Linked DNA regions of Homo sapiens: region 1 is reported to be linked to region 2. The links are microRNA targets in miRTarBase. Many come from high-throughput screens and were not tested one by one. Region 2 holds a microRNA gene; the other region holds the end of a gene's coding sequence.
Evidence for each region. Region 2 holds the annotated microRNA hsa-miR-1301-3p (UUGCAGCUGCCUGGGAGUGACUUC, at 3,043-3,066, shown strand). A microRNA usually pairs through its seed, bases 2 to 8, with sites in the 3' UTR of a target mRNA and lowers its output. Matches are read on the target gene's strand: a 7mer-m8 pairs with bases 2 to 8, a 7mer-A1 pairs with bases 2 to 7 and ends in A, and an 8mer does both.

Region 1 (3,000 bases), not on the chromosome of region 2:
GAGCAGATGGGACATCCGGCTTTGACTCTCTCTTGACAACCCCTTTCCCAGGGAGTGAGCTGGTACCACTGGAAGGGCTTCGAGTTCTCGGTGCCCTTCACGGAAATGAAGCTGAGACCAAGAAACTTTCGCTCCCCAGCGGGGGGAGGCTGAGCTGCTGCCCACCTCTCTCGCACCCCAGTATGACTGCCGAGCACTGAGGGGTCGCCCCGAGAGAAGAGCCAGGGTCCTTCACCACCCAGCCGCTGGAGGAAGCCTTCTCTGCCAGCGATCTCGCAGCACTGTGTTTACAGGGGGGAGGGGAGGGGTTCGTACGGGAGCAATAAAGGAGAAACTGAGGTACCCGGCTGGCATCGGTCCTGCCCCATCACTGGCTCTGGCCCGGGCTGTGGGCCCCCATCCCCCGGGGCTGCAGCCGCACTTGGAAAGGCTGCATCTTGAGGATGACACTGCAGTGGGGCAGGGGCTGCAGGGAGGGCAGGGCGTCCCCGGAGGGCAGCAGCGTGAAGGCCTGCAGCAGTCGGGTCAGCACCACGAAGAGCTCCAGGCGCGCCAGCGGCTCGCCCAGGCACACGCGGGCACCGCAGCCGAAGGCCAGAGCTCTGGAGTTCTTGCCTGGCTCCAGGAAGCGATCTGCGGGCGGGTGGACAGGTGGGTGGGGAGGCGTTCAGCGGCAGCGGGGACCAGCCTCCACCACATTTTCACGGCAGGCCCCCGGCCCCCCACATACCAGGCCAGAACTCATGTGGCCTCTCCCAGACCGTCTCATCCAGGTGGGCGCCTTGGAGGTTCGGAATGATGACTGTGCCCTCAGGGATGTCGTAGCCGGAGATGCTGAAGGGGGCTGGAGTTAGAGGCTGGCCAGGACCTCCCTGGGCTCGGGCTTTCCTCACTCATCCCCAACCCTCGGGAGTCACCTGCTGGGCCGTGTGGTGCGGTGGGGCAAGGCTAAGGGCACAACGGGCCGCAGGCGCAGCACCTCGGCGATGGTGGCATTGAGCAAGGGCAGCCGTGCACGGTCCTTGTAGGGGACCCGGGAGCTGGAGGCACCAGGGCCCAGTTCGTGGTCTAGCTCCTCCTGCAGTCGCTGCTGAATCTGGGGAATGATCGGGTGGAGTCCTGCCCCAGCAGCCCACAGCTGCCCAGCCTCCAGCCGCTCCCTCAGCAACCCAGTGAGCCTGAGTGCCGGTGAGGCAAGCACAGCCCCAGCCGCACAGTGCTCAGAGCTGAGTGAGGGTGCCCACCGCCCTGGCCAGGTTGCTGGGAAGGAGCCTTTTGCTTGTCCCCAGGACGCACCTCAGGGTGGTGAAGCAAAAAAACCACGGCCCAGGAGAGGGTGTTTGCTGTGGTCTCAGTGCCACCGATCAGGAGGTCCACTGCAGCCATGTGCACGTGCCCTTCCAGGAGCTGTCCAGAGCCCTCTTCCATGCTCGGCTGCGCCACCCCTTGGAGCATGTAGTCCATCATGTCCCTCCACTGGCCTGCCACGAGGCTCTCCTGCAGAGGGTGAAAGGAGCGGGCTGAGCGGCTGGCCTGGGGAGAGGAGTACAGAGTGGCAACAGGCCCATAACTGGGGTATGCAAAAGAACCCGCCTCATAGCAATGCTGAGGCCGGTAGCATCACTGGCTGTGGGCCGAGGGGAGGCCGTCCACGTACAGTCCCCACCTTGTGCTGCCTCAGCTGCATCTCCACGATGTGATCCCTCTTCTCTATGGCCTGCTTCAGCCTCCGGAGACCTGGATTGGGGAAGAACTGCGGCAGGAAGCATGAGAATGCAGCTGTGGGAAGGAGCCTCTCCCTCCACCCCAGCCTCTCCCCTACAACCCAGGGGTGTCTAGGCTCCAGGTCCTCACCCTGAGAAAGGGAATCACGTCCACAATTTGGATGGACCAGTGGCTCCAGGTTTTTAACACCTCCTGGATACATTTGTAATAGGCAGGCATTAAGTTGTCGTCCTGCCAGAAAAGGAGGGAGTACTTTCAGTTCAGGACAAGGAGAGGCTCAGGGAGGGGCTGGGGGTGGGCCTGAGGGGCTGTGAGGCACCTTGATCTTGTCTCCGAAGGTGAGGTAACAGATGATGCTGCAGGTGAGGAGAGAGAATTCCTCCTCAATGGCCACAGGGGTGCCGGGCTGGGCTCTCATGCGCTGTGGAGAAACAGTGTGAGTTCAGCAGGCCGCTGTGCAGCGGGCAGGGCGGGGGCTACTGTGAGAGGCGAGGCTGACCCGAGGTGGCCTCAGGAGCCCAGCCTTACCTCACAGAACTCCTGGGTCAGCTGCTCCACCACTGGCTCCATGGAGTCACGGATGCCCAGCAGCAGGGCTGAGCGGGTGAGCTTCTTGTGGGCTTTCCAGAGCAGGGAGTAGTCTCCCAAGGACAGGTCCGGGTAGTTCCTAGACACCAGCTTGTCTGCAGGAGGAGGTGGGGGCTGGAGGGTGGGAACTGATGAAGGCAGCTGAGGGCCTGACCTTCTTCGGCCTCCCCAACCCCTGCTTTCTCCCCACCAGATATGCCCCCCCAAGAGCTTCCAGGGACCTGGATTGGGGATGCCCCAAAGGTGGCTCACACTTGAGGCTGAGGTGGGAGGATCATTTGAGACTAGGAATTTAAGACCAGCCTGGGCAGCATAGCAAGAACCCATCTCTTAAAAAAAAATTTTTTTAAGAAAGAAAAAATGCCCCCGGCCCTTACAGGTAAGTGGCTCAGGTCTGCCAGCAAAGTCTGCCCACTTTTTGACCATGGCTTCCTCAATGGTCCTCTTGGAGTTCAGCACCACCACATCTGGGAGACAGCCAAAGCAGCGTCAGCGGAGAGAGGACCCTCTCCGTCACCTCCGCCCCCTCCTATGGTGAGGGCCAGAGCGAGATCAGCCTCTCACCTTGCAGCCCAAGGTGGAGCCTGTAGATGGGCCCGAATTTCTGAGTCAGGCCAAGCAGATAGATGGGGAGGTCGGGCTGCAGCAGGTGCAAGAAGCCCGGGGCAAGAGGCGGGAGGTGGAGGC
Region 2 (7,801 bases):
TCAGTCTGTAACTGGTACGACCCCTGCAGATGTTTGAAGGAAGATTTTGAGGAAGGTGCTCGCACCCTTGCATTGGGAATGCTGATGAGTTAGCGCCTCTACTTCACAGTGATTTCCCCAAAAGATGAGCTGCAAGGCCTAGACCCTGGCCCTCCACCCAGGACCTGCGGCGAGCATCATCACCGTCTGAGAATCTTTGGGTGGGCTGGAAGTTGATGTCAAGCTGTCCAGCCTTTCCGTCACTCTCCATTCAGAGGCAGGTCTGCGGAGAGAGATAGGAGGGACAAGCTGGGGACAGCATTTTTGGAAAGCAAACAGAAAAGAAGCAAAAACTGTTCCTCTAAAATAGAAAGGAGGCTTATGTGTGTTATGTGAAGGATAATGTGGAAGGCTATTTCCAAAGAATTTCTCAAAAAATGACGTGAGCCATGTCAGCATCATTGAATTTAGATAGAGGCCAGGAGCAGTGTGGCATCGTGCTGGGGCCACCAGGCTGGGGACTGGACAGATGATGGTTTCACCTCACCCCTGCCACCTCCTTGCTGCGTGTCATTGGAAGATCACTCAACCTTTCTTAGGCTCAGTTTTACCATCTGTAAAATGGACATAACTTCACAGGCTGGTGTTGTTTGTTTTGAGCATTGCTTCTTGGACTAAACCTGGATATTTTTTCCTTCCCTCCCTCGCTTCTGCACTTCCTCTGGTTCTTTGCCTCCCAAGAAGCCTGTTTCCTCCTGTTCCCTCCAAAACTCCAAGTTTTGAGTTCCCCCTTCCTGGGAAGGTCCATTCGTCATGTTCTATTGACTCTCTTGTTCCCAATTATTCCCTGCAAACCTGGTTCACCCAGTGTATTTGAAGAGCATCTACTGAGCTAAATGGGAGTTATTGGGGGTCAGTTCCTGTTTTCTTTTTAATAAGGGGAGGGAGGGTCTGTGCAGAGCTGTCCGGGAGAGCAGAGGGCATGGGGGACAGGGGGGATGTTGCAGGACCCAGTGGGACCACAGCTGGGACCTTGCCCTGTAGCTGGCTCAGTGTGCCAGGGGATAGGGGCACAGAGCCCTGGTGGGTCTGGGAGATGAGCTTGGGAAGGACTTGGCCTGGACATGGGCTAGGCTGCCCTGCTTTCCGAGCCAGACCTCAGGAGATGGCAGAGAGGGCCGCTTCCTCTGTGAGGGCCGTACATGATGGCCCTTGGGCTGTATGGTGGCCTTGTGACATGCAGCCACACCCCTGGGGAGACCTTTGAAGCATCTCTGCATTCTGGAGGATCTGCTGGGAAGATGGCTTCGCAGCGGGGCTCTTGTTGATGCTGCCAAGAAGGCCGGGTGGGAGTCGGGCTGTCTCTGGCTGGGGGTGGGGTGGGGGCTGCGGTCCATCCGAGTGTGGAAATCCACGTTTCTCTGGTTTGTGCAGACCTGTGCAAGCAGCCATGCTGCAGGACTGGCCCCCTGGAAGTGGGGCATACATGAACTCAGGGTGTGGCGTTGTAATCAAATGAAATGTACAGCATAATTAATCTGGCATACCCTTAATGATATGCATAATTGTGCTGCATGGTAATTAGGTGTAAATGGTAAGCAGTTCACATAAATGTTTTTGTAATTGGTATTAATTTTGCAGAGGCAAACCAAGTTTATGTGGTTTTTCTCTTCTTGCTCTGTTAGTTTTCTAGTACAGGCATTTCCAAGCTTTTGGAGGAATTCTATTGCAAATGTTTGTTTATAGGGCAATGTTTTGTGTTTTCTCTCAGAACAATGTTATGAATGGTTATGAGGTTCCCAAGCTGGTTTCCAAATGCCTCTTTGGCCCATACAGTAGGTGAAATGTGCAACGCGTGTGCCTGTGTCGGAAGGCCCGCCCAGCATCCTCTGGCTCCAGGTGCCCCAGCGTGTGCAGCATGAGGGGGGCTGTGTGCGTGTGTGAACCTGTGCGCCTGGGTCATCTCTGCATTTGTCTAGGTATATCTCTGTGTGTGCATCTATGTGTGTTTGTATCTGTGTGTCTGTGTGTGTGTGTGTGTGTGTGTGTGTGTGTGTGTGTGTGGGGTCTGCATGACTGTGAGAGACTCCTGAGGCCACAGTGGCAGGTAGACATTCTCTGGTAAATACATTCCCCATTCTAGTGGCACGGGGCCTGGGCTGGAGACTTAGGGGCATCAGCTGGGAGGGGGAGCCTGGCACAGCAGCCGTTCCTAGGAGTGAGCACAAGCCACTCTGAAGTGTGGTCTGAAGCCAGAGTCTAGGTTTCCTAAGAACATATGGCTTGCCTTTCTTTCTGATCAAGCACATAATAATTTTTAAATGATCATTTATTGAGTACCTGCCACGTGCCAGGCCCTATGTTAAACACTTGACTCAGATTCCCTCCTATCTTAAAATAGACTTATGAAATAGGGACTCTTTCTCACCCCGCTTTACAACTTGGGAAACTGAGGCCCGAATCTCTCAGTGACAGAGCCAGGGTTTGAGGCAGGGACTGCTGGAGGCAGGGCCCATGGTTCTGAGATGTGCTGCTCAGAACCCTGGGCTCTTCTCCCTCCCTCGGCCCCCTCCACAAATGGTTTGTTTTTGTTGGGACAGACGATGAGGAGAAAGGCGGCCCTGTGGGAAATCTGAGAGCAGCGAGCTCCCTTCCTGCTGAATTGGTTGGGGTGGTGGGGGACGAGCTCCAACAGCCGCTCCCAAGCCCTGAAGACCCTTTGGGGGACCTCCTGGTTTTGACCCAAGAGGGAGCTGGTTTAGGAAGTGGGGTTGGGGGACTGTGGCCATGGACGGTGTGGGGAGAGGGTGGTCACAGGCCAGACAAGGACTCAGCCCCCCTGATTCCTGTGGTTCACTGATAGCCTAGGCCCTCACCAACCCCTTCACCTTGGGGATCTGGGGCAGGTGAGCCTGCAGACCCACAGCAGGTGTATGTTCTGCCCTCGGAGCTCCTGCAAACAGCCTTTCCACTGACGCAGTGCCTTGGGGGCTCTGCCAAGCGACCCCTAGAATGGGGATTGTGGGGGGTCGCTCTAGGCACCGCAGCACTGTGCTGGGGATGTTGCAGCTGCCTGGGAGTGACTTCACACAGTCCTCTCTGCCTCCAGGGTCACCCGGAACGGGGTTGCGGGGGACAAGCTGTGGGCGGGGGGGACGGGCAGCAAGATACAACGCATGAACTCTGACCTCGTCTCTTTGAGAAATCAGACACATCTATATACGCATGGAACACTCAATGACCCCTGGGTGGGTGGTCGAGGAGAAGGGGACGGTGTTTTGGGGGAGGAGAGATGTTGGGTTGAAGGACTGGGAGAGAGGAGCTGAGTGGGCCCTGTGGGAGAGGGTGGGAGCCAGGGGTGTCATTCCGGGACAGCAGCCGGGCCTGGAATGATGCAGCTGGGAGAGGTGGGGGCACGGCCAGAGCAGTGGGCGGAGGCTGCGTTGTAGCCAGCCCTGGTGAGACCAGGCCAGAGCGTATATTTTACCACGTGTGCAAATCTTTGGCATCACCGGATTTTTAAAAATAATAGCTTTAAGATATAATTCACATTCCATACAGTTCACCCATATAAGTGTACAGTTCGATGGTTTTAGTACATTCACAATCAACTTTTTAAAATTGTCATGAGGTGTCATAGGTTTTCATAGAGGGAGCCATGTGTGGGCAATCCTTGCTGATAGGGTGGGGTGGGAGGTAGAGATGCCAGAGGCAGGTGGACCCGCTCCAGGGCATCTACCAGGTTATTGTGCCACAGACACAAGAGGTACAAAGGGCCTGGAGGGAATAGGGGGACGAGAGAAGCCCAAGGACCAGGTACCTGCTGGATGTGAGGACCCAGGGGAAAGGTGGGACCTGAGTTTTCTCCAGGGTTTGGGACTTAGGCAGCTGAAGGGAGGGGAATGTTACTTCCACATAGAGGGAAAAACCAGAAAATAGAGCCGGCTCTGAAAGAAGCATGTTCTGGAAGAGTAGGATTTTAGGGACTGCAAGTCATCCAGTTGGGATGAAAATAAATAGAGCTGGAGCCCCTGGCAGTAGGAGGCGTATGTTAACTTATGCCCAGGTGTCTTAGAGGAAGAGCATTTAGAGAGAAGCTGAAGGTAGAACATGACCTTTGAGGAGCACCCACCGTGCAGAAGTGGGATCAAGACTCCCGGACAGCCCCAGAGACAAAGCTGCAGAATCTGAGGCTGGAGACCCAGAAGCAAGGAGCCAGATGGAGTCATGGCTGGGAGAGAACACACAGAAGGCAGTTGCTGGTGAGCTCCAGAAGCAGGGGTCTCCTTTCACTCCAGGGCCCGGCTCCACAATGGCACTCAAGAAATGGCTGTTGAGTGAGTGCTTGAAGCAGGGAGTGATTAGCTGGCCAGGATGTTGAATTGAGCTCAAGGGCCATGAGGATGGAAAAAAGCCCTTTGGGGCCGCGGGTGACTGTATCAGTCAGGGTCCATTCAGAAGACAGAAACCACATGGTGATTGGAACAAGGAAAGTTTCACATAACGAATTATTAACTCTAATTGGATTGGAATAATGAGGAATTGGCTAGTAAGAAGTAAAAATAACTCCAAAGAATACAAAAATAATAGATATGAGAACAGCCCCTACCTCTAGGGTTGCCACAGAGTGCCCAAGGAAGAGGCCCCGCAGGGTTGAGATCCACACCTTGATGGAGAGGGTGTGGCGATGGCTCCCTGGATGGCAACGTCTCTGTAATGCCATGTTGGCAGAACTTGCTGGAAATCCACCCTCTGGAATTTACTGGAAATCCATCTTTTTGGGTCCCAAGGAAAGTTGTTTGTGGGAGGTATCTTGCTGGAAGCACACCGCTGCTACGTTTTCCCAGGGGAGTGCTGGGAGAAGCTCCTGGCTGTTGGGTACTCCTGACTGACGTGTTGCTGGAGCCAGGTGCTGGAGAAGCTGTCTGCATTGCAACAGCCTGGCACTCCTGCAGGAGCTGGGCACTGGAAAGCTGCATGCTGGAGAAGCTGCAGCAGCACAGGAGCTGGGTGCTGGGAAGCTTCATATCTGGCAAGACCCTGATGCTGGGAAGCGCCCATGCAGCAAGATCTGGCTGCTAGAGAAGTTGTATACAATGCAGGAACCCAACAAGAGCACACTGGGTCTAGAAAGGAAACCCACCTCCTCCTTCAATGCCTCTTCAGTGCCCTCCACAGTTGTGCCAGCTGACAAAGGAAAAGTAGTTAAAGGGCCCAGCTCCATCTTCACAGCACAGGCAATGATGGGCGAATAAACTGATAACTGGCACAGTTTACCCCTTTGGCTGCACAGCTTCCATTTGCACCTTTCTACAACATCTGAACTCCCATACAAAAACAAACAACTGGATGTCTACCTATCAAGATAGTTATCCTTCTTATGAAATTCTCACCCTTTTGCCCAGAGAGCCCCAACCATCATTCTACCAATCCCTGGCTACAATAACTTCTCAAAGTCAGTCACAGTCTCACTGAATATTCTGTTACCTAAAGACTACATTATAAAGCTAACTGTCAACAACTTGTATAGAAAAGAATGGGAAGGAGAAAAAAAGAAGAAAATGGTTACCATATTGCAAACACACCACACACACACACACACACACACACACACACACACACACACACATATATATCAAGTTAATAGAAAATGTGCAAAACCACTAGAGGCCTGGTTTCTGCATTTGTTCACAAGGCTACACTTTACACTTGCTACCTGGCTTCATTGTCTTCTTATCCCATTCTGTGTTTCCTCCACACTCAGCCAGAGCCTTAGCAGGTCATGCTTCTTTTACTTGGTGGAGTAACCCAAACCCTCATTCCCAAAGGACCTGAATCCTTAGTTATCCCGCTTTTGTTGTTGTTACCATAACTTTCCATTCAGCCTTCCTTTGGGCATGGACGTTCTTAAGAGGTGCCTGAGAGAATTCGCTGGGTTCCAGACACAGTCTTGCTTGGCTCTGTGGCTGATCAGCAATCCAGTTTTCTCCTTGGTAACTAGGATCAATCACTCCAGACAGTGGCATAACTCCTTTTTTCCACTGTCAGTTCAGTGGCGTAAGGAGTTCGAGAAAGCCAAGTGGGTGTGTGTGTCTTCTCTCCCAGGGAAAGCATTATAATATGTCCCTGGTGGGAGCACTCTCCCCCGAGGACGAGGTCAGCATCCCCAGAAGGTTTTAGAGTTGTGGGGTGGGGAAACAGGGCCACGCGCAGGGGACTAAGTGATAGAGGCTCTGGAGCTGGCAGCTGTGGACCATGCTGTAGAGAAGGTTGGAAAAGTAGAGAAACATGCAGATGACCGTGGGCCGCTTCCGCTGTGGATGATAAAATCAGACCCATGCTGGTCACTGCCAGACCCCATCCAGGACCATGTGTCTGATTCTCACATGGACTCTGTGCCACCCTGTGCCCCTGACTCCCAGGCCGTGGGAAGCCCATCTGACCCACAGCACGTGTGACCCCTAGACAGGGCTTCTCCTGGCTTGCAGCACTTGGAAATCGGTGCTGCCTTACGGAAGTCTGTGTTGGCTCATTTTGGCTCCTGAGAACAACTTCAGCTCCTTAACAGCATCTATTTTAGGTATAAATCCCCCCCCCGCTCACTTTTGGGGCTGTGTCATGGCAACCATTAGTGTGAGCAAAGCAGTCTGACTCAGACTCCCATGTGGCCGCCGTAGTGGCAGCAGGTTTGGTGTGATCATAAGTGCTCCTGCTGGTGGTGCCAGTGCTGGTGGTGCCAGTGCTGGTGGTGCCATGGCCTCGAGAGTGGTGTGAGAGCCACAAGCCGTCTTATTGTGACTCTAGAGCCAGATAAATCAGCTTTGCAGAGGGCAGGACTGCTGGCCTGTCACCAGTGGCTTTTGGTATTCTATGGACAGCTGGTAGTTTGGGTGCAAGTAATGTTTCTGAAAGTCAGGGCAATGGAATGGTGATGGCCATCTCACTGGAAAATGGCACCAAGACCCCCCTCCCTCTCCCTCCTCCTTATCCATCCCCAGTCTTATGACCAAGAGAGGTTGTGACAGGAGGGGGAAGAGTTGACAGATAGACATCTCCGTCTAGGAGGTCTCCTCCACTTTCTCCTGGCCCCTAGCTGACCCCTACCCTAGCAGATGATTGGGCAGGGGGTGGGGGTGGGGCACAAGATACTCTGCTGCCTTCTGTCACCCACATTTGCACCTCCTCCTAAGCTCAAATAGGAAATTTAGCCATGGGACTGTTATCTGTGGGCCAGGGTCACCCCAGAGGCACAAACATCGATCATGGCGCTGGCTCTGAGATGTGTGTTTAGCATGCTCATTCATGACCAAGAACTGCCACATTTGCGAAGGGTTCTGAGTTACACGGACCTGGATTTATAATCCTGCCCTGGGGCTTTCTAGCTGTGCTACCCTAGAGAGGTATTAAACCTCTTTAAGCCTCCATGTCTTCTATAAAATGGGGATAACAATAGGACCTGCTTCATAGGATTGTTTTGAGGATTGAGGATAGTGCATGTTCCTTAGCACAGTGCTTGGCACATGGTAGGTGCTCAGGAAATAGCTGCATGAATGAATGAGTGAATGACCACTGCATTGGGCAGGGCATTGAATACTGTGATTAGCATGCTCCAGTGCCCTCCTTCCCCGCTCCCACTGCAGACAAGCCTGACCAGGAGAGAGAGACTGACTGGAAACTTTGTTTTCTGGCCAGTCCGTGCCCAAAGTTAATATAGATCTGCAGCAGTCACATGCTGATTGTGAGAGAGGGAGTGGAGAGCTGTGAGCTTCTGAGTGGGGTGGACCTGGACTGTGCCTGGCTCCACCCCTTACCCACTGTGTGA

Region 1: the mRNA of TNXB is a reported target of hsa-miR-1301-3p. The part of its 3' UTR that is shown has no 7-base or 8-base seed match.

Annotation. Positions count from the first base shown.
Region 1 is chr6:32,038,502-32,041,501 of GRCh38, reverse strand. TNXB (tenascin XB) reads left to right here. Exons shown (of 44, transcript NM_001365276.2): 44 at 52-349. The coding sequence ends at 153. CYP21A2 (cytochrome P450 family 21 subfamily A member 2) reads right to left here. Exons shown (of 10, transcript NM_000500.9): 1 at 2,878-3,000; 2 at 2,691-2,780; 3 at 2,254-2,408; 4 at 2,045-2,146; 5 at 1,855-1,956; 6 at 1,667-1,753; 7 at 1,297-1,497; 8 at 918-1,096; 9 at 731-834; 10 at 1-633. The coding sequence ends at 368. Among named protein-coding and RNA genes, the nearest start is that of CYP21A2, 1.6 kb to the right of the region's middle.
Region 2 is chr2:25,323,916-25,331,716 of GRCh38, reverse strand. It overlaps MIR1301 (microRNA 1301), which reads left to right and starts at 2,996; the gene lies at 2,996-3,077. All of the region lies in intron 1 of DNMT3A (DNA methyltransferase 3 alpha), which reads left to right. RefSeq lists enhancers at 691-1,191, 1,192-1,692.